Homo sapiens: one gene and its partners. The protein of the gene in region 1 interacts with the protein of each later gene in a biochemical or structural test. Each region holds a gene or a part of one and is shown in the gene's direction. Other genes may lie near its edges.

Region 1 (7,808 bases):
TTTTTGTGTTAGTAGAGACAGGGTTTCACCATGTTGGCCAGGCTGGCCTTGAACTACTGACCTCAAGTGATCTGCCTGCCTTAGCCTCCCCAAATGCTGGGATTACAGGCATGAGCCACCGTGCCCGGCCTGAATTTTATAAAGCTTTTAATGTGCACTTCATGGCAGGCTGGTACCAAGCTGAATTGTGATTCACCAACTGACCAAAACAGTGCCATGATTATTGGTCTTCAACATCAAAATTGTTTCTGATCTATGGCCCAAAATGCCTTCTGACCCAATCCCAGCAAACTTTGCTCATAGCAGAATTGTACATAAAAATAGTATCTTTCGGCCGGGCATGGTGGCTTATGCCTATAATCCTAGCACTTTGGGAGGCTGAGGCAGGTCAATCACTTGAGGTCAGGAGTTTGAGACCAGCCTAGCCAACGTGGTGAAACCCCATCTCTAGTTAAAATACAAAAATTAGCCAGGTGTGATGGCACACGCCTGTAGTCCCAGTTACTCAGGAAGCTGAGGCAGGAGAGTTGCTTGAACCTGGGAGGCGGAGGTTGCGGTGAGCCAAGATTGTGCTACTGCACTCCAGTCTGGGTGACAGAGGAAGACTGTCTCAAAAGTGAAAAGTAGGCTGGGCACAGTGGCTAACACCTGTAATCCTAGCACTTTTGGAGGCCAAGGCAGGTGAATCACCTGAGGTTAGGAGTTTGAGACCAGCCTGGCCAACATGGTGAAACCCCGTCTCTACTACAAATACAAAAATTAACTGGGCATGGTGACACACACCTGTAATCCCAGCTACTCAGGAGGCTGAGGCAGGAGAATTGCTTGAACCTGGGAGGCGGAGATTGCAGTGAGCCAAGATTGCGCCATTGCACTTCTGCCTGGGCAACAAGAGTGAAACTCTGTCTCAAAAAAAAAAAAAGTAATATCTTTTTTTTTTTTTTTTTTTTTTTTTCACATTTCTCACCTGCACACACAAAAAGTAATATATTAATCAGGTATGTAAATGTTCTGCTTTGGGTCTGACTTAAACTAAGCTGAAGCAGTAATTTAATAAAAGGAGTATCCTAAAGAACAAACAAACCAGCAAAATTAGGTCAGATGAAAATCTTTTTATTCTCAAAATTGTTTTTCAGTTCGGTAAATATTTTGAGTGTGTATGCATACGGTATTTAGTTTGCAAACATATATGTTTTTTTCTTTAAGCTAAAAAAAAAAACCCACAAAAAAGTAGTATGTTCCAGACTAACCCAGCATATTATTTCTTAAAACTATTTGAATTGTAATATTTTTTTAATTGTTGATATCCGCATTGTTTAAGATAACTAGGTCATAATAACCTATTTTGCTGAAATTTGTGGTTTGTAAAAACTAAAGTTTCCTTATTACTTGGTTTTTCTGGAACAAATTGGTATCCTGATTTGTAAGTTTGATATTTGGTCAAATGATTAAAATTGTTTAAAAAGGACTATGTATTGTTTCTATGCTTTTAGGTTAAATTCATAGGGGAAAAGTGCCCTTACTACCTAAGAATCTGCTAGCTGTGTGTGAATTTGGCCTAGTTTCAGTTTTAACTGGGTTAGTTTGACCAGCAGCAGATGTACACCTTGAGACCTTCTTCCTTGATGTTGGTGGAGAGTGATCCTTAGAGATAGACGGAGGTTAACTAGAAAATTGTAAGGCACTTTTGCAAATACATTGCAGAACAGCTTTGCCAATAGCAGGAGATAAGAATGAATGCCAACAGGGTTATCTTCTTCCTTTGAGATGCTGCCTTGGAAGTGATGTTCTCTTTGCAGACATTTGAAGAGACTTCACATTCTGCTATCAGGGATGTTCCAAAAGCTAGTTTGATCTTCTCTTCCTGTTTTTTTTTTTTTCAACTGGAATGTTTACATACCCTTCAGGGCAGTGTTAAACAGCAAAAGCAAATTGGCTTTTTACTTTCAAATCAATATTTGTATAATTATATAGCCAAATGGAATTGTAGGTCTAGACATCTGTAATATTAATCTACATCTACTGGAGCATATTACAGCAGTTACATTTGAATTTGCTGTTTAACATCTCTCTGGTGCAGCAATGCGTGACTGTAAAGGAAACTGTTTTTGTTTTATAGCTGTAACTGTCCTGGTGCATGACAGCTGCCCCAAAGGTATCCCCCTTTGATTGCCTTCTGTTCAGGAGCTTTCAGTGTTAGTGTTACATCTGGAGCCAGGTGACTAATGAGTTACATATTCCATAGCAGATGCCACTGGCTAAGCCAAAAGTAAGTGGCCTATTGAATAGGAATTGCTACCCACAAAGTTCTCATCAGAGTGACAAACATATCCAGGATCTGCTCCTAGTTATTTTCAGCTGGATTTGCCCATAGTTCAGCTGGTTCCTTAATTATGAATTTCAAATAAAGCTAACCGTAGGACTCATTTATTAGAGCAGTTATACTCTGTTTGGTGCTTGAATTATTAAAGATTCCCCCTTTCCTCAGAATTTATCCAGTTGGCGAAGGACTTTGAGGATTTCCGTAAAAAGTGGCAGAGGACTGACCATGAGCTGGGGAAATACAAGGATCTTTTGATGAAAGCAGAGACTGAGCGAAGTGCTCTGGATGTTAAGCTGAAGCATGCACGTAATCAGGTGGATGTAGAGATCAAACGGAGACAGAGAGCTGAGGCTGACTGCGAAAAGCTGGTGTGTATTGTTTTCCGTGCTAGAACAGTGATGATGCAGGAGGGGGAAGGCATTGTCTGACAGTTTCCACTTGCCAAATATACCTAGTTTCTTCTTCCACATTAAAGAACTGAAAGTGACCTGTTCTTTAACAGCTTGCCCATGATTAGAGCTGAAATTGCAGACTAGGAATCTTGTTCTTCATAATTTGAAATTTAAATGTTTTTGTCACTTAGACTTGAAACTTACTTAACAGACAGATTTCAAATGAGAACTTAAAGAATTAGAGGAAAAGGGAGGGAGGGAGATCCTAACGTACTTGATCTGTCACAAGTTATTGGCCATCCTTCATTGTTTATTTTAAGTGCTACCCGGAATATCCATCCTTACATGAGTAGCTGGTACTTTGTCATACATACAGGCAAGACAACTGTGACTCTTCTTTTCATCACCCCTCTCTAATTCAGGGTAAAAGGCTAGATGTATTCAACCAGTTGAGCAATGTGACTGACACAGAACACTATCATTTTGATGTGCCAGGATGGGTCATAATGCAAAGGAAAGCCTTTACTGGGAGGGACTAATCCATCTTGGTATACAGTGTTAGATGCCTCAGTAAACTCAAATTGTCTGGTTCCAGTGCATTATAGCTTTGTATCCATTTTAATGCATTTTGCTCCACTACTTTGAGAGGTGGGTGGCTGCTTTGATCCGTAGAAGCCAATATTTGTCCTGATAAAATGACACTAAAGTGTTTTTGCTATGTGAAATCTATTTTGGGACTCTCATTTTGCATTATTCTCCTCTTGGATTAGCAGGTTAATCCAAAAGTCTTGTAGCAGAAACTTCGCTGTTCTAGATGTAGTTCATTTTACCAGTCAGAAATCAGAGACACAATCTGGGTTTGATGTGAATTAATATGCTATTGGTGTAGCAGCCTTCCTGAAGGTCCATTTGCATAATGCTGCATTTTAATGTCTTCTGGTCTGCCTGTCCCATAAACTTGAGGTGAAGCTTTCTCCCCTGGCTAGTTATGATGTTTTACTTTGCTTTGGTCTGTAGGAACGACAGATTCAGCTGATTCGAGAGATGCTCATGTGTGACACATCTGGCAGCATTCAACTAAGCGAGGAGCAAAAATCAGCTCTGGCTTTTCTCAACAGAGGCCAACCATCCAGCAGCAATGCTGGGAACAAAAGGTGGAGGAACTGCATCTGTTGTTATCCTATCACAAGCAACACAGGCTGTCAGATATTCTTGTTATCTGAATTCTTAAATATACTTCTTCTAGAATGTGTGCTGAAAAAAGCAGAAAAAGATTTTGTGGGGAGAGTAGGTGGGGAATAAAGGCACAGGGATGTCCCTGTATATTTTATTTTATTTTATTTTTAAATCTTTCCTAAGGATGTTGTTTCACCATGGATACAATTTTGATGTTGGTGCTAAATTGCACATCAATAACTAATCCTGTGCATTGCTAAGAAACCCAAAGGTGAAAGTGGCAGTTCAGCAATACTTTCAGTGTTTACTCTCCAGAGAGCTCTTACAGCTCTTCTGGTTTAGAAAGGCCTCTGTGAGCCAAGACCAGACAATAATTTTGGTTCCACTGCACCACTGTTTAAAATAGTCTCAACCAGGCTTTGAATTTAACATCCCCAGTACAATATGTAGGGAAAGGTCAGCTATTTATTTTGTTGCCTGGTTGTTTTATGGGGAATCTTTATAACTAAGAAGATGTACAGGCTTAATTTCTTAAAAAGTCAGTGTTGGGTAATACTCTTGTTTGTAGAAACCAGCACAGTTGGGATCAAATTAAACTTCATTCCCTTGATTTTGTGAATTTGGAGTAGCCTGTAATACAAACTCGGTAGAGAATAGCACCCATAACCCTGACTAACTTTCAACTGCCCTTATAAGGTCTTTGCTGAAAAAGCAACTGTGTTGCACCTGTACTCATGCACACACACTCCTCCGTGGAAACCATACAAAGTAGCCTACCACAGGGTTTGAGATTGTAATTGTCTCTATAGTGAAGATTTTGCTATGAAATTAACTGATGTTACCTGACCAGTAGGACTTGTTCTGAATGTTGGTGAATTTTACATTCCACAGTCTACCATGTCTAACGTTGTATTGTTTCACTGATCTAGACTATCAACCATTGATGAATCTGGTTCCATTTTATCAGATATCAGCTTTGACAAGACTGATGAATCACTGGTAATAAACATTTGATCTCTGAGAATTACCTACTTTTCTTACCTCTGCTTCCCCAGGAATATCTCTCCTGTCTTCTCTTCTGAACATCCTATATTACTATTTTATTAGTTGATGTGTTATAGATTCTGAGCTAGCAATTTAAAATATAAATCCACATGAGCTATAAGAGGCTGGCTTATATATTAGTTTCTGAAGTGAGAATATATAATTCAGAATTTGGCATAAGTTGAGTTCATTTAATAGATCTCTGTGTGCCACATGTACTAACTGATTATATTTTGACTTATTAAAGCCCCAGCTAATAATAAAAATATTAGCAAGACTGTATGTCGTCAGGGTTTATTTGCTGCTCTTAAATAGACTTGTGCCTTATTTCTGAATTAGTTTGGTTCTTGGGGAAAGCATAGTCATACTTCACAATTAGAAGGAAACCAAGGTCCTGGGATTTCAGCCAGAAAAGTGTGATTAGAGTTTCTAGGCACTATATAATGCTTTCATCAACAATGGTTAACATGTTAAACTATTTGTTGCCCTGCTTTTATGGGGCGGCACACTTCTTTTAACTTACAGTGATGCTTCTGCATAAAAGGTCATCTCCTGATACAGTCTTTGATATAGTTCATTGATTTGTGCATCTTTTCTGTTACTAGCTGAAAACTAGCAAACAAAACAAATCAGGAAGTTTTTGGTGACTGGTTTTCTGGTATAGCAAAACAGGTGACAACTATTTGTTACATGGCTAGGAGTTTTCTGTTCAGATTCAGTGTTTGACCAGGGAAAATACGGCCATTTTATAGATAAAAATATTAGGCATCACCTTTCTCAAATAGGGAATGATATAGTGGAGGTCTGGAATATATAATAAAACTAGATCATATTATCAGTTGATTTTTGAGCTAGACCTATGATACGATATTTCTTGTAACTGAAGCTGAATCAAACAACCAGTAACTAAATTACTGGACCATGACTTGGGGAAGTTAAATTTATTTAGCTAAGCTATTATTTGCTGTATACCACTGTTTCTAGATACTGTTTTCAGGGATGATCAGGAGTAAGGAAATCACAGGTAACTACTAAAATGAATGCAAATAGTTAAAATAGGTGAATTGAAATGAGACCACAATAAAAGACAAATAGTTCTTCAGTGGTGGACACGTTTTAGGGCCTAAGTTCCTAAACTGTAGAACTTTTTTTTTTTTTTTTTTTTTGAGACAGAGTCTCACTCTGTCACCCAGGCTAGAATGCAGTGGCGCAATCTCAGCTCACTGCAAGCTCCGCCTCCCGGGTTTATGCCATTCTCCTGCCTCAGCCTCCAGAGTAGCTGGGACTGCAGGCGCCCGCCACCACGCCTGGCTAATTTTTTTGTATTTTTTTAGTAGAGACGGGGTTTCACCGTGTTAGCCAGGATGGTCTCGATATCCTGACCTCATGATCCGCCCACCTTGGCCTCTCAAAGTGCTGGGATTACAGGCATGAGCCATCGCCTGGCAACTGTGGAACTTGTGAAGTGGCAATATTATGCAGAGCATTTGATTAGACAGTGGCAATCCCTTGGGGGCAAGAATCACATCTAATACAATCAGTATAGTGCCTAACATTCTGTAAGTTCTAAAACTAATTACAAAAATAATCAGAAATAAAGGATCAGCCACTGGAAATATGGCAGAATTTGATTCTTTAACCTCTTCTTGCCTCTGTGGTATTGATTCCTGATTTTATTATAATAGCTTCAATTTTTCAAAGAAAGCACATTAACTTACTATAGCTCTATAGCTACAACACTTGAGACCTTCCCTTCTCTAACCCTCCCCGAATTGTACGTTAGGTAGCCTGACTGAAGAAGCCTTTAAAGTTCTCTGTAAATTTATTTGCACAGGGTTTAGGGATGGCCTAACCAAAAAAAGAAATTAATACAGTGTAATTGTCAACAGGATTGGGACTCTTCTTTGGTGAAGACTTTCAAACTGAAGAAGAGAGAAAAGAGGGTATGTATGATTTGTTTAGTCTTTTTTTAAAACAAAGTAATAATGGAGTTATTTTTGGAAATTTTGCCATGATACTGCATTCCTGTCATGTTGCTCTAGCCATTGTTAAGCACATACTACAGATGAATTCATGCTGTGGGGACAGTATTGATATTCTTTTTTTTTTTTTTTTTTCTTTTTTTTGAGACGGAGTTTTGCTCATTTCCCAGGCTGGAGTGCAATGGCGCGATCTCGGCTGAACGCAACGTCCGCCTCCCGGGTTCAAGCAATTCTCCTGCGTCGGCCTCCCAAGCAGCTGGGATACAGGTGCCTGCCACCATGCCTGGCTAATTTTTGTATTTTTAGTAGAAACGGGGTTTCACCATGTTGGCCAGGCTGGTCTTGAACTCCTGACCTCAGGTGATCCACCTGCCTCGGCCTCCCAAAGTGCTGGGATTACAGGCGTGAGCCACTGCTCCCAACCAGTACTGGTACTCTTTGAAGTAGTAACTTAGGACAGAATCCTGTCCATTTCACTGTTTAGGCTGCATTTCAATTCATTCATACAGTGGAAAAGGATAAACTTAAGTTTGTTTTGAATTGTCATATGAATTTTTACACAGAACTTTTGTGCTCTAATATAAGCTTCATATAATGGGATATATAGAGATCTATCTGTGTATGCTTGTTTAGGGTACTTAATGTGTTTCCAAGACTTCATGTCCTTAGTTAGGATTACAGCTGTACTTTTTCTGGTGGTGTCATCTAAATTTCTCCATAGCTTGCTCATTTTTTCTAGGGCACTGAGAGCATTTTTGTACAACATATTCTTTTGAAACAGCTTATTCTTCATGTGGAAATAGGCAAAGAGAGAGAGAGAGAGAACACATTGTTTGTTATTTACTGTAGCCCTAATCCCCAGGACCTGTATCCAAGTTGTTTGATGGAATA
Region 2 (7,808 bases), on another chromosome or scaffold:
CATTAGAGTTCTCATATTGTTTCCGTGATACTTAAATTATTTTCACTAAATTTTCATGTTTTCCTGTTAACATATGACTTTTCTTTTCTTTGTTTGTTTCTTTTTTTTTTTTTTGAGAAGGAGTTTTCCTCTTGCTGCCCAGGCTGGAGTGCAATGGCATGATCTTGGCTCACCACAACTCCGCCTCCCGGGTTCAAGTGATTCTCCTGCCTCAGCCTCCCGAGTAGCTGGGATTACAGGCATGCGCCACCATGCCTGGCTAATTTTTGTATTTTTTTTTTTTTATTAGAGATGGGGTTTCTCCATGTTGGTCAGGCTGGTCTCGAACTCCCAACCTGAAGTTATCTGCCCGCCTTGGGATTACGGGTGTGTGCCACTGTGCCTGGCTTTTTTTTTTTTTTTTTTTGAGATGGACTCTTGCTCTGTTGCCCAGGCTGGAGTGCAGTGGTGCCATCTTGGCTCACCGCAACCTCCGCCTCCCAGGTTCAAGCGGTTCTCCCTTCTCAGCCTCTTGAGTAGCTGAGATTACAGGTGCATGCCACTGCGCCTGGCTAATTTTTGTATTTTTAGTAGACACAGGGTTTCACCATGTTGGCCAGGCTAGTCTCGAACTCCTGACCTCAAGTGATCCACCCACCTCGGCCTCCCAAAGTGCTGGGATTACAGGTGTGAGCCACCGGGCCCAGCCCTTTTTTTTTTTTTTTTTAAAGGACGGAATCTCACTCTGTCACTCAGGCTGGATGGAGTGCAATGGCGGGATCCTGGCCCACTGCAACCTCCACCTCCCAGGTTCAAGCGATTCTTTCACCTCAGCCTCCCGGGTAGCTGAGATTACAAGCACCTGCCATCATGCCCGGCTAATTTTTGTAATTTTGTAGAGACTGAATTTCACCATGTTGTCCAGGTTGGTCTTGAACTCCTGACCTCAAGTGATCCACCCATCTCAGCCTCCCAAAGTGCTGGGATTACAGGCGTGAGCCATTGCACCTGGCCAAGATAAGACTTTTCTTAACTGATTTTATTTTCTTTAGCACATATTCCCATTTTCATGAATATTGTATATGGGAATTTTAGAATTTGTATAACTCACATGTATGCTTCCACCTTGGGAATGTATGGGTTTATGATACTTCTTTCTCTTCAGTAGGGATATGTCCTCAGCACCAACTACTCCTCCATCAGTGGATAAAGTAGACGGATTTTCTCGGAAGTCCGTCAGAAAAGCCAGACAGAAGAGGTCGCAAAGTTCCTCACAGTTTAGGTCTCAAGGCAAGCCTATTGAGTTAACACCTCTGCCGCTGCTAAAAGGTAAGGCTCATGACCAGGTGATGCATTCTTTTTCAATTGATCTTTCTACATCTATATATAATTTCCTTTTTGTAGAGTTTTATATGTGTTGCAAATTGAAGGGATGGGATACTTCACATACATTGAAGTTACTAATGTGTGACCAAATATACCCACTCTCCTTTTTAAAGGCTCAATTTAGTCTGTCTTTGGGCAAGTTAAAAGAAACATTATCAGGAGAATATCTCACATTGATGAGTAGGTAAACTAAGTACTAGAGAAACTTTAAGATGTCTGGGTTTGTGTTTTTCATTTTTTCTTCTGTTGACGTTTAGGGATACATTATATACAATGACAACTACAGATTATGGTCTTAGGAAGTAGACCCTAGTAGAGGAGATGGTACCATTCATTAATTTACATATAGAAAATGGTATTTGGAAGAATTCGTTTTTAAAAATCAAGAAAAAAATGGTCCATTTATAGTTGTTTACATGCACTCTTGTTTTCACATAGTACAAGTAGAAAAGATATACCTTTCTATGTACAAGTATGATGATCATACTTGTTTAGTATGATCTTTTCTTTGAAATTTGTTAATTTTTTAATTTTAATTTTTATCTTTTGAGATAGAGTCTCCCTCTGTTGCTCAGGCTGGTTCACAGCAACCTCCACCTCCTGGGTTCAAGTGATTTTCCTGCCTCAGCTTCCCGAGTAGCTGGGAGCACAGGTGCCCGCCACCATGCCCAGCTAATTTTTGTATTTTTAATAGAGACAGGGTTTCACCATGTTGGTCAGGCTGGTCTTGAACTCCTGACCCCAAGTGATCTGCCCACCTTGACCTCCCAAAGTGCTGGGATTACAGGTGTGAGCCACCGTGCCTGGCCTGAAATTTGTTAAAAACAAGTTTTTTGGTTTTTTAAATTTTCTTTTGAGACAATCTCATGCTGTCACTCTGGCTAGAGTTCAGTGGGGACAGAGTGAAAGTGCAGGTTGAGGCCGGGCGTGGTGGCTCACGCCTGTAATCCCAGCACTTTGGGAGCCCGAGGCAGGCAGATCACGAGGTCAGGAGTTTGAGACCAGCCTGGCCAACATGGTGAAACCCTGTCTCTTCTAAAAATACAAAAATTAGGCGCGGTGGTGGCACCTGTAATCCCAGCTACTCGGGAAGCCGAGGCAGGAGAATTGCTTGAACCGGGAGGCAGAGGTTGAAGTGAGCCCAGATCGTGCCATTGCATTCTAGCCTGGGTGACAGAGCAAGACTCTGTCTCGGGGGAAAAAAAAAAAAGAAAGTGCAGGTTGGGGCTCACTGTGGCCTCTATTTCCTAGGCTCAAGTGATCCTCCCTTTCCCGAGTAGCCGGGATCAACTTCCCGAGTAGCTGGGACTACAGAAGCATGCCATCACGCCCAGCTAATTTTTCCATTTTTTTGTAGAGATGGAGTTTTGCCATGTTGCACAGGCTGGTCTCGAATTGCCATGGTGTTCCCATGCCAGGATTTAGGCGTGAGCCACCATGCCCGGCCCAACACGTTTTTAATATGAAGAATTTTTTCTAAATTAGGCATTTCAACTTTTGTTTGGGTATGTGGTTACTTTTTGTCCCTTTTAATTTTCATCATGTTTGCTTCATGTTTATGAACAGGTGTTGTTTGAAAAATATCAGAACATAGCTTTTATAGTGTGGAAACTATCAGAATTTACCTTTGAGGTGGATGTTTATGTGCTGAATACTGAAGAATGGGAGAAAGGGGATATGAACAACACAATGAGCTTTAGTGTGGCTTGGAGGAAACCAGGCAACCTGGTTTGCTAGTTCATTATTGCAGACTTATTTCTGTAACAGTTTGTGAAATCAGAAGGTATTATAAGAAAAACTGGAATGTAACCGGAAAAGATCCTCAAAATTTAGCTTAGGATATTTCAAGCTTCTATTTTTTCCATATGAATACTTTTTTTAAAAAAGAGAGAGAGATTCATAAATAAGATTCCAATGTTTATACAAAATTTTTGGAAACTGAATACTGATTACTGTAAAGATGATATATCTACCAGTCAGTAAAGATGAGCTCCTGTGAGCTTTGGGGGAGAAAATTTTGACTAGAGATTTTGCTGGTAAAAATGAAAATAGTCATTATGAGGCTTTGGAAAGAAAATGTAGGAAACACTGTAGATTGAACTATGCTTGAAATACAAAGTTGGGAGACACTGGTTTTTAGTAATCTATTTAATCTGAAGTAGATATGTAATGGGTGTTAACTTCTGTATCTGTAAAGGACTTCATTCTGAGGAAGCCAGTTAAATTTTTTTTTTTAGAATTAGAAGGAATTTAAAAACTTACACTAATTTCTTGGATCTTATGGTAAACAATTAAATTAGGACTTCACTGACCACTCATAGTCAGGGTATTGGTTTTGTGGGTAGTGAAAGAAGCATGCATGAGAAGAATTTGGACACATGCTTTAATGTATTTTTTCTTTAATGCTTTCATGTCTTTTTTCTCATTTTAAAAAATTATGGTAAAATATACATAACATGAAATTTACCATCTTAACCATGTTTAAATGTGCATTAAGTGCCTTGACATTGTCATGCAACTGTCCCTACCATCCATCTCCAGAACCTTTTCATCTTCCCCAACTGAAGCTCTGTACCTGTTAAACACTGACTCCCTGTTTCCCCCACCAGCCCTTGGCAACCGCCATTCTGTTTTTTGTTTCTATGAATTTGACTACTCTAGGTACCTCCTATAAGTGATGCCATGCAATATTTGTCTTTTTGTGACTGGCTTATTTCACTTAGTCAAGTGTCTTCAGTGTTCATCTCTGTTGTAGCAGGTGTCAGAATTTCATTCTTTTTTAAGGCTGAATAATTTCAGTGTATATACATACCATATACTTTTTAATCCATTAATTCATTGGTGGACACTTGGGTTGCTTCCACCTTCAGGCTATTGTGAATAATGCTGCTGTGACCATGATGTACAGATACCTGTTTAAGTTCTGGCTTTCATTTCTTTTGGGTATGTACCCAGACGTGTAATTGCTGGATCATATGTTGAATTTTTCAGGAATTGCCATACATATTGCCACAGCAACTGGACCATTTTTCATTCCCATTAGCAATGCATGAGGGTTCCAGTTTTCTATATCCTCACCATCACTCATTTTCTGCTTTTTAATTTTTTGATAGTAGTCATTATAATAGGTATGAAGTGGTATTTCAGTGTGATTTTTATTTGCATTGCCCTAATGATTAGTGATGTTGAGCATCTTTTCCTGTGCTTTTTGGCCATTTCTGTATCCTTTTTCTCACTTTTAAAAGTGAAGTCTGCTAGTGTTGCCAGTTTTCCAAGAACTCTGCTTTCCAAGAATGTGATTTTTTGAACTTGTATATTTTGCCAGTATGAGAGAATTGGAGAGTAACAGGACTATATACTCACAAACCTAATTCCAGAGTGACTAACAGTGATTGTTATGTAGTAAGCACATTCTGGGTAAATACTCTGGAAAGTATTCTATAAATTAGAAATCCATCTCTGTCTGTAGAATAACATAAGGAAGTATAATCAGAAATAGACTTCAGTAATGTGTATTTGCTCTTGATTTTCTAGGAAGTAATTTATGGAATATAAAGAAAATGTAGGAGGAATTTCTTTTCTAGGATTTTATTTTTTTTGGCCATTGCCTTAAGAGAAACCAGGATAAACACTATATGCATGCTAAGGGTAGTTATTGATTTAATTTTCTATAGTATTGCTTTGACTAAATTGGGTTAATTTTATTTGGAGTACAATATAAAATATGGTTGAATTTTGTGAGTTGTTTTAAATAATGAAGTCAAAGAGGTGTCCTTAAGGTCTTTAATTTCAGGGGAGTTTGAATACGATAATTATACAAACAGTGATTATGTAACTCATCTTTTAATATGTCATTTTTGAATGCTCAGATATGCATTAATAACCACTCGTTTTGTGCATGCATTATCAGAATGTTTATTATATGCATCATAATCTTTGATTTATAAATAATACTGCATTAATTCTTAGCGTTTTAAAGTCTGTTCACTTGCAAAACTGCAACATAATGTGAAGGGAAAGTTTTTGTTTTGCCCTATTTCTTTTTTTTTTGAGATGGAGTTTTGCTCTTGTTGCCCAGGCTGGAGTACAGTGGTGCGATCTCAGCTCACTGCAACCTCTGCCTCTTGGTTCAAGTGATTCTCTTGCCTCAGGCTCCTGAGTAGCTGGGATTGCAGGTGCCCACCACCACACCAAGCTAATTTTTTTGTATTTTTAGTAGAGACGTGTTGAGACCAGCCAGGCTGGTCTCAAACTCCTGACCTCAGGTGATCCACCTGCCTTGGCCTCCCAAAGTGCTGGGATTACAGGCGTCAGTCACTGCGCCCAGCCTATTTTGCCCTATGTCTAATAGGTGGGGTTTTGAAATCTGTATCACTGATGTTATTTCCTGTAGAAAGCAACACCACCTGTAATTCTGTATAAATCTACCTGGTTTTTCCGTATCTGTGTGTTAGGAAATTATAGGATGAACTTTGCAAAGATAGACATTTACATTTTCTCCATCTTTATATGCTTTTGTGAAAGTGTTCTTGGAGAGCCTTAACATTTTTGAGGCTGGGTATGGTGGCTCACACCTATAATCCCAGCACATAGGGAGACAGAGTTGGGAGGCTCGCTTAAGCCCAAGAGTTTGAGACCAGCCTACGCAACATAGTGAGACCTCATCTGTACAAATAATTTAAAAAATTAGCCAGGGTGGTGGTGTACACCTGTGGTCCCAGCTACTTGGGAGGCTGAGGCAGAAGGATTGCCCGAGCCCAGGAGGCTGAGGCTGCAGTGAGCTGTGATTGTTCCACTGTGTCCAGTGTGGCTGACAGAGTGAGACCTTTGTCTCAAAATAAAAACATTTTTTTCTTTGAGTCTAAAAGATTCTTACTCATTCACTGATAGGGAAAACCTAGTAGAGGTTTAGTGCCTTACTTACTTGATAAGAAAGTAAAATCTTGGGGGAGGCCGACAGGGGGCGGGTCATTTGAGGTCAAGAGTTTGAGACCAGCCTGGCCAACAGGGTAAAACCCCATCTCTGCTAAAAATCCAAAAATTCGTGGATGTAGTGGTGTGCATCTATAATCCCAGCTACTCAGGAGGCTGAGGCAGGAGAATCACTTGACCCCGGGAGGTGGAGGTTGCAGTGAGCTCATATTGTGCCACTATAAACTCTGTCTTAAAAAAAAAAAGAAAGTCAAGACTTGGATACTTTCCTTACACTTACACAGCAGGACATGAAGCAAGCCTTGACTGTTATCTAGGTAAGTTGTTGAGTAAGACAGTCAAACTAAACAGTTAGGCAAACACACAAACACACACACAAATTTATGTTAATAATAATCAGTGGTAGTAGCACCTGGCTGGGTGATTTATGTTCTCTCCTCACCCCAGCCTCCTGTGCCTCATTTCCTTGCGTTGACTTTAAGCAATTCTGTAAGTTTAGATTTGGGTGAACGTTTTCTGAAGAATACTGCCTCTTTGAAGATGGAATTATAGTGAAAGTAGCATTGTTATTTCTTTTGTTTGTTTGTTTTTCTGAGACAGAGTCTCGCTCTGTCACCCAGGCTGGAGTGCAGTGGCGCAATCTCGGCTCACTGCAACCTCTGCCTCCCAGGTTCAAGTGATTCTCCTGCCTCAGCCTGCGGAGAGTAGCTGGGATTACAGGTGTCTGCCACCACATCCGGCTGATTTTTATATTTTTAGTAGAGACGGGGTTTCTCCATGTTGGCCAGGCTGGTCTCGAACTCCTGACCACAGGTGCGTCCGCCTGCCTAGGCCTCCCAAAGTGCTGGGATTCTTGGCATGAGCCACCGCGCCCGGCCGCCATTGTTATTTCTTGTCTCACAATTCATTATACATTTCCGAGGCATTTTGCAGATAGTTTGTACATTCACTTTTAGATATTCTTACAACTATGATGACTAGACGGAGTTTAGCTCTTGTTGCCCAGGCTGGAGTGTAATGGTGCGATCTCGGCTCACCACAGCCTCTGCCTTCCGGGTTCAAGCCATTTTCCTGCCTCAGCCTCCCAAGTAGCTGGGATTACAGGCATGCGCCTCCATGCCCGGCTAATTTTGTATTTTTAGTAGAGATGGGGTTTCTCCATGTTGGTCAGGCTGGTCATGAACTCCTGACCTCAGGTGATCTGCCTGCCTCGGCTTCCCAAAGTGCTGGGATTACAGGCGTGAGCCACCGTGCCCGGCCGTTTTCGTGCCTTTTTAATGATTGCCTTTTTCGTCTATATCTGCTTTGTGTATAGTAAAGTAGGCACATGCAATATAATACCAGATTTTTATAACGAGTGAATGTGCTAAAACCTATTAGAATAAGAATAGTCTCTTAAGAGGCCAGGTACAGTAAATAACTCACACCTTTAATCCCAGCACTTTGGCAGGTCGAGGTGGGAGGATTACTTGAGCCCAGGAGTTCAAGGCCAGCCTGTGCAACATAGCAGG
Region 3 (6,097 bases), on another chromosome or scaffold:
ATTTGTACTGTGTTAAAGGCTAAGAAGTAATTGTAATAAACTCTTATAGTCTTGCCTTTTAAAAACTGATTGTCATTATCTCAAACTGTGACTCACAGGGTGCTGGTATAGAAATCTACCCTGGGAGTCAGTGCACCCTGAGTGACAATGGGATCCATCACTGCAAGGAAGGGATCCTCATTAAGGTGAGCATCAGCCAAAACACCCACTTTTCAATGGATAGAATGGTTTTACCTACAAATTATGCTTTATTAAATTGTTGGGTTCTATTTTCTGGTTTTGAAAAGCATAAACAGTGTACACATTTTGATAATATCAGTGATTGGAATCTCTTGTGAGAATGCTGTTACCTATAGATCTGCAGAAATGACAGAGGAAAGCTGTGTCACTAAGGGTGCAGACTGTGCTACAACATGGGACTAAACATAGCTTTTTCCTTTTATTTTTAGAATAGTGTGAATAAAGAAGATTTTTAAGGCAGGAAATGTTGAATATGACAGTTCCTAAAACATTTGTTTTCAATGTCACAGGACTTCTTAGATGAACATTATGACATTCCCAAGATATCCATGGTGAATAATATAATACATAATAATGAAGGTTATGGTGTTGTCTTGGTGAAACCTACAATCTTCTCTGACCTGCAAGAAAATGCTGAAGATGGAACTGAAGGTATATTTAGTAATTTTTAATATAAAAACCAGACATAATTTATTTCAGCATTAAATGCTGATTAAGGATCTGAGTCTTCCTCTCTTCCTTAAAAAAGGTTGTTGGGATATGCTTGGGCATGGAGAGAGAGAAGCTTGGTAACATTAAGTCATAACATTACAGACTGTGAAAGAAACTTTCAAGGTCAACTAGTTCAACTGTCATTCAAAATCTTGATGTTGTGGTTTCTGTGCAGTTCCCTTCTTATCATGGTTAGCTTTCAATGAGGGTGGATGTGTGATAGCAACGATGGGTGTGTGATAGCAATGGTGGGTGTGTGATGCTATGGTGGGTGTGTGACAGCAACAGTGGGTGTGTGACAGCAATGGTGGCTCCTACTGGCGTTTGTTAAGGCTGGAGACAGTGAAATGAATGTGCCAGGCTGAAGGCTGCATTTCCTGGAGGGGATAGTGGAGTTTACCTCTGTTTTTATTGGTAGAAGTAAATGCCTTCCTGTCACCTGCCTTTCTTGGCAGCGAAGGGGAGCTAACTCAGTGGAAATCTGTGAACTTCAAGCTATGATGTAGACCACTATTAAGTCTCAGTCATAGAGAAGGATTAAGCTTTGATGTAGGTGAGGAAAGTTTAAAGCAGTTTATTTATTTAATCAGCTTTTTCAGGTTGAAAGAGTTTAAAGGGTAGTCCTTGTCATCCTTCAGGATCTGCTCCAGTTACATCTCTGCAAGTTCTTTATTTCTTCACAGGTCTCACAAAAGTAAAATAAAGGTGTCAGCTGGGCAGGACTCATCTGAAAGCTCTGGGGGCAGACTCTGTCTCCAAACGCATTCATATCATTCATGGGCAGAATTCATTCCTTTAGCTCATGGGTCTGAAGTCTCCATTTTCTTGCTGGCTGCTGGCTGTTTGCTGGGGCTGGCACTCAGCTCCTAGAGGCTGCTCTCAGGTTCTTGCCTCATGGCCCCCCCATCTCAGCAACAGAGAACATCCCTCAAGGCAAATCTCTCATGCTCTGAATTTCTCTGACTTCCTCTTTAGCAACCAGCTGGAGAAAACTGATTAGCAATCTTAATTACATTGTAAAATTACAGTGCAAAATTCTTCTGCCATTTAATAGGCATGAAAGTAATACCAGGGGGTGGGGATCATGGGGCCTATCTAGAATTAGCTGCTAGATTGGGACTTCATTTAGAAAAGTGGCACTATCTTATCAATCTGTGCATCCTATCTCCTAACGCAGTGCTTAGCAGATAGTAACTATCCAGGAAATGTCTGTTGAGTAAAAGTGATTCTGGGATGAAAAGGGTAAAGGAAGAGTTCAAAATTGGTGATCCTGTGTGAGGGTCAGGGAACCTTGGTATAGAAAGCAAGGCAGCTGCTTGTTGAGAAGACTGTGTAGAAATATATGTTTTTGTTGGGTTAGCTTGTATATTTAACTTTGTTATTATTTGTTTGTTTCTCCAGAAAATAAAGCGCTTAAAATTCAGACAAGTGGAGAGCCAGATGTGGCTGAAAGAGTGGATCTAGAAGAGCTGATTGAGTGTGCAACTGGTAAAATGGAGCTTTGTGCAAGAACTGACCCTTCTGAGCAAGTCGAGGGAAATTGTGAAATTGTAAATGAACTAATTGCTGCCTCCACACAGAAAGGCCAGATAAAGAAGAAAAGGTTGAGTGAACTGGGGATCACGCAAGCTGATGACAACTTAATGTCACAGGAGATGTTTGTTGGGATTGTGGGGAACCAGTTCAAGTGGAATGGGAAAGGTAGTTTTGGCACATTTCTTTTCTGACTACAGTGATGTAAGTAGATAGCAAAATACTGGATTTTGCACATGCTGCCCTAAGAATCACTGCTGCCATTGTAGTTTGCTGTATTGTCTGTATTTTATATTTGATTATTTGGGCTTGAGTGAAAGGTAGATTTATTTCCATTTGCAGGTGTTGCACATAAAACACTCCCTCTTTATAAGAAAAATCATAAATGCATATAAAATAGAAAATATTTGGAGATTGCTTATCTGAAAGTCTTGCTTTCTTATACACATGGTTCTCTCATATTAAGCCTGGTAGTAACTTTTTAGTGTAATTACCTTTAGCACTTCAAAGACGAGGAAGTAAGGAAGGGAATGCAAGACTAGTGCATAAAAATGCAATAGGTGTCATATGTACAGCATTCTTCTTAGAGTTGCCTTTTCATCCCAATTACAGTGAGTCTGATTTCCATCCTGTATTTGCATAATACTTGTCTTAAAATAAAAGCTTTTATGATTGGGAATTTATCTGCCTAATCAGACTTATTATTGAGACGTCAATGGGACGCATTTTTCTGTTGAGCTATGCAGTCGTCAAAACAGCGATAGACAGCATAGGAGGTTTGAAGCAGAAATGAAATGTGTTATTCAGAGCCAATGTTGTACATAGAGCATTTTCACTATTGCTGAATGGGAATGATTAAAAACAAGGTATTTTTCGGGCCAGGCGGTGGCTCACGCTTGTAATCGCAGCACTTTGGGAGGCTGAGGCAGGAGGATCACTTGAGCCCAGGAGTTCAAGACTAGCCTAGGCAACATAGTGAGACCCTGTCTCTACTAAAAATAAATTTAAAAAAAATTAGCTGAGTGTGGTGGTGCATGCATGTAGTTCCAGCTACTCAGGAGGCTGAGGCTAGAGGATCCTTGAGCCCAGGAGGTTGAGGCTGCAGTGAGGTGTGATTGCGCCACTGCATTCCAGCTTGGGCGACAGAGCGAGACCCAGTCTCAAAAAAAAAAAAAAGTATTTTTCTCTTACCGTTACAGTATTCTGATTATATTACTGACACAGTCAAAATGATTAACTGTACAACCTGTATCTGCTGGGTGTTCTTGTTATCATATTGTAAAACAGCTTTAAAAATATTTATATTTTAAAAACTGTATGTGACATTAATATGCCTAATGATTAAAATTATAGTGATGAAATAACAAAATTGAATCTTGTTATATCTTTTCAAACTCACTGTGGGCCATAGTGTCAGTGTAGCATATGTGGTCATTTAAGAATACATGGTATTTTGGTATCTGTTTTCATGCTTTAGAAAGAGTATTACATTTTTTCCCATTAAGTGTGGTTATGTTTGTTTTTTAAATTTGAGTAAAAAATAATTCTTATTTTTTGGATGCTACTAAATGTAGGATTTATGTTAGATTTATTATTTGATCATTGAAAGGTATTTTTACTTTTAAAAAATCTTGTTGCAAGGAGGTTTAAAAAGTAATGTTCATTTCTGCATCAGTTTCAGCCAAATGTTGATATTAAAACCTTTTATTCTTTTTTTTAATTTTTGCCTCTAGATGTGATGCCTTAAGATAAAAACCATTTATTCAACTTAAAAAAAAATCACTTTTTTTTTTTTTTTGAGATGGAGTCTTGCTCTGTCACCCAGGCTGGAGTGCAGTGGCACTATCTCGGCTTACTGTAACCTCCACCTCCTGAATTCAAGCAATTCTCCTGCCTCAGTCGCCTGAGTAGCTGGGATTATAGGTGCCCGCCACCATGCCCAGCTAATTTTTTTTTTGTATTTATTTTATTTTTATTTTATTTTGTTTTGTTTTTGAGATGGAGCTTCACTTTGTCACCCAGGCTGGAGTGCAGTGGCATGATCTCGGCTCATTGCAACCTCAGTCTCCTGGGTTCAAGTGATTCTCATGCCTCAGCCTCCCAAGTAGCTGGTATGACAGCCACCATGCCTGGCTAATTTTTGTATTTTTAGTAGAGACAGGGTTTAACCATGTTGGCCAGGCTGGTCTCAAACTCCTGACCTCAAGTGATCCACCCACCTTGGCCTCCCAAAGTGCTGGGATTACAGGCATGAGCCACGTGCCTGGCCTTTTTTTTGTATTTTTAGTAGATATGGGGTTTCACCATGTTGCCCAGGCTGTTCTCAAACTCCTGACCTCAAGTGATCCACCCACCTCAGCCTCCCAAATCACATTGATTTTTCAATTGAATTTCTACTTTATCTTGGTTTAGATTTTGTAGATAAGTTAGTAACATTTATACCTTCCTTGTTTCTTTTTATAACATGGAGTTTTTCAGATTTCATGTCTATTTTAGCTTAAATCTAAGCTTATATTAATTTTTATTCACATGATTCATTATAATGAGTAGGCCTACTTTGTTCTTATTTAAGTTATATGCAGTACATTTTGCCTCAATCATGGAGAGTTAAACATCTCAAATGGTATAGCATAGGGAATTTAGGGAGTGCCCTAGAGGGGTATGGGTTTGATATTTGAGATGAAAACACTGATGTGGAGAAAGGATAGCCTTCTGTGTTGACTAATTGTGTGTCCTGTCCTTATGGTCCACTCTTAGTGTGACCTTGAATTTATGGCAGGTAGCAAAATTCTATTTTGCTGATTTGAGTATTTTATTTTAGCTTCTTTAGATGTATTTCCCTTCTTCAGTTTCTTGTTGTATTATTGCACCATAGATATTAACACGAATATATTTTTAAAAACTGCCCAGAGATCATTTGATCTCAAGTGTATATACACTTCACTTTTCTGGAGTTACAGAAGGATGGTGAAATAATCATTTTCTGGATTTTGCTTTTCAGAGGGAGATTGAAGAAAGTTCAATAGAACACTGATGAGCTCATAAGAACCGTGTCGTTCATGTTTCTTTGTAATTCAGTTTGCTGTTTTTATTCTTATTCCTTTCTAGGAAGTACATTCCACAGGCTTCTATGGAAATTAAGTTGAAATAAATTTTGATAATTGGCCTTTGATGCAAAATTTATGCATAGCATTTAATTTTATAACATTTTGTTTTATTCTGTGATTAAATATATATATGTATATGTTTTAAAGTCTTATATGTGGTGAACATTCTCCTCTTTTTTTAGTTCTCACTATTAATAGAAAAAAATATATATTTTAAAAACAAAACAGGTGTAATATATCAATGCTCTGAGAATTGCTATTGCTATTTTCCCTTAATATATTGCAGAAAAATATGTCTGTACATACAAATCCACCTTATTCTTTTGATAGTTGTGTTATAGCCCATTGCTGGAATTCTTTCAGTTGTAAGTGATAGAAACTCAACTGAGAAAGGCTGTATGAGAGTTGGTTCTTGGAACTAAACATCTAAGGATGAGAGCTTGATTACATTTCTTACTTTTATAAGGTTTCTTGACAGTATGAGTTCTGTTTTCTTTCTTTTCCCCTTCCCCTTCCCCTTCCCCTTCCCCTCCATCTCCTTCCCCTTCCCCTCCATCTCCTTCCCCTTCCCCTTCCCCTTCCCCTCCATCTCCTTCCCCTTCCCTTTCCCTTTCCCTTTCCCTCTCCCTTTTCCTTTCCCTTCCCTTCCCTCTCTGTCACCCAGGGTGGAATGCAATGGCGTGATCTTGGCTCACTGCAACTGCCGCCTCCCATGCCTTAATGGA

What was found.
Region 2: the proteins of RACGAP1 (region 1) and PPP2R5E interact in far-western blotting, tested with the Homo sapiens proteins (one study listed by IntAct).
Region 3: the proteins of RACGAP1 (region 1) and SHCBP1 form a complex in vitro, tested with the Homo sapiens proteins (one study listed by BioGRID).

Annotation. Positions count from the first base shown.
Region 1 is NC_000012.12:50,001,317-50,009,124, reverse strand, and holds part of RACGAP1 (rac GTPase-activating protein 1), read left to right. Parts: intron 1-2,488; coding exon 2,489-2,691; intron 2,692-3,732; coding exon 3,733-3,869; intron 3,870-4,820; coding exon 4,821-4,890; intron 4,891-6,824; coding exon 6,825-6,878; intron 6,879-7,808.
Region 2 is NC_000014.9:63,533,029-63,540,836, reverse strand, and holds part of PPP2R5E (serine/threonine-protein phosphatase 2A 56 kDa regulatory subunit epsilon isoform), read left to right. Parts: intron 1-1,143; exon of another isoform or gene 1,144-1,144; 5' UTR 1,145-1,151; coding exon 1,152-1,308; intron 1,309-7,808. UniProt on the Homo sapiens protein: The B regulatory subunit might modulate substrate selectivity and catalytic activity, and might also direct the localization of the catalytic enzyme to a particular subcellular compartment.
Region 3 is NC_000016.10:46,578,091-46,584,187, reverse strand, and holds the end of SHCBP1 (SHC SH2 domain-binding protein 1), read left to right. Parts: intron 1-98; coding exon 99-185; exon of another isoform or gene 186-186; intron 187-530; coding exon 531-672; intron 673-2,133; coding exon 2,134-2,459; 3' UTR 2,460-5,597; downstream 5,598-6,097. UniProt on the Homo sapiens protein: May play a role in signaling pathways governing cellular proliferation, cell growth and differentiation. May be a component of a novel signaling pathway downstream of Shc. Acts as a positive regulator of FGF signaling in neural progenitor cells.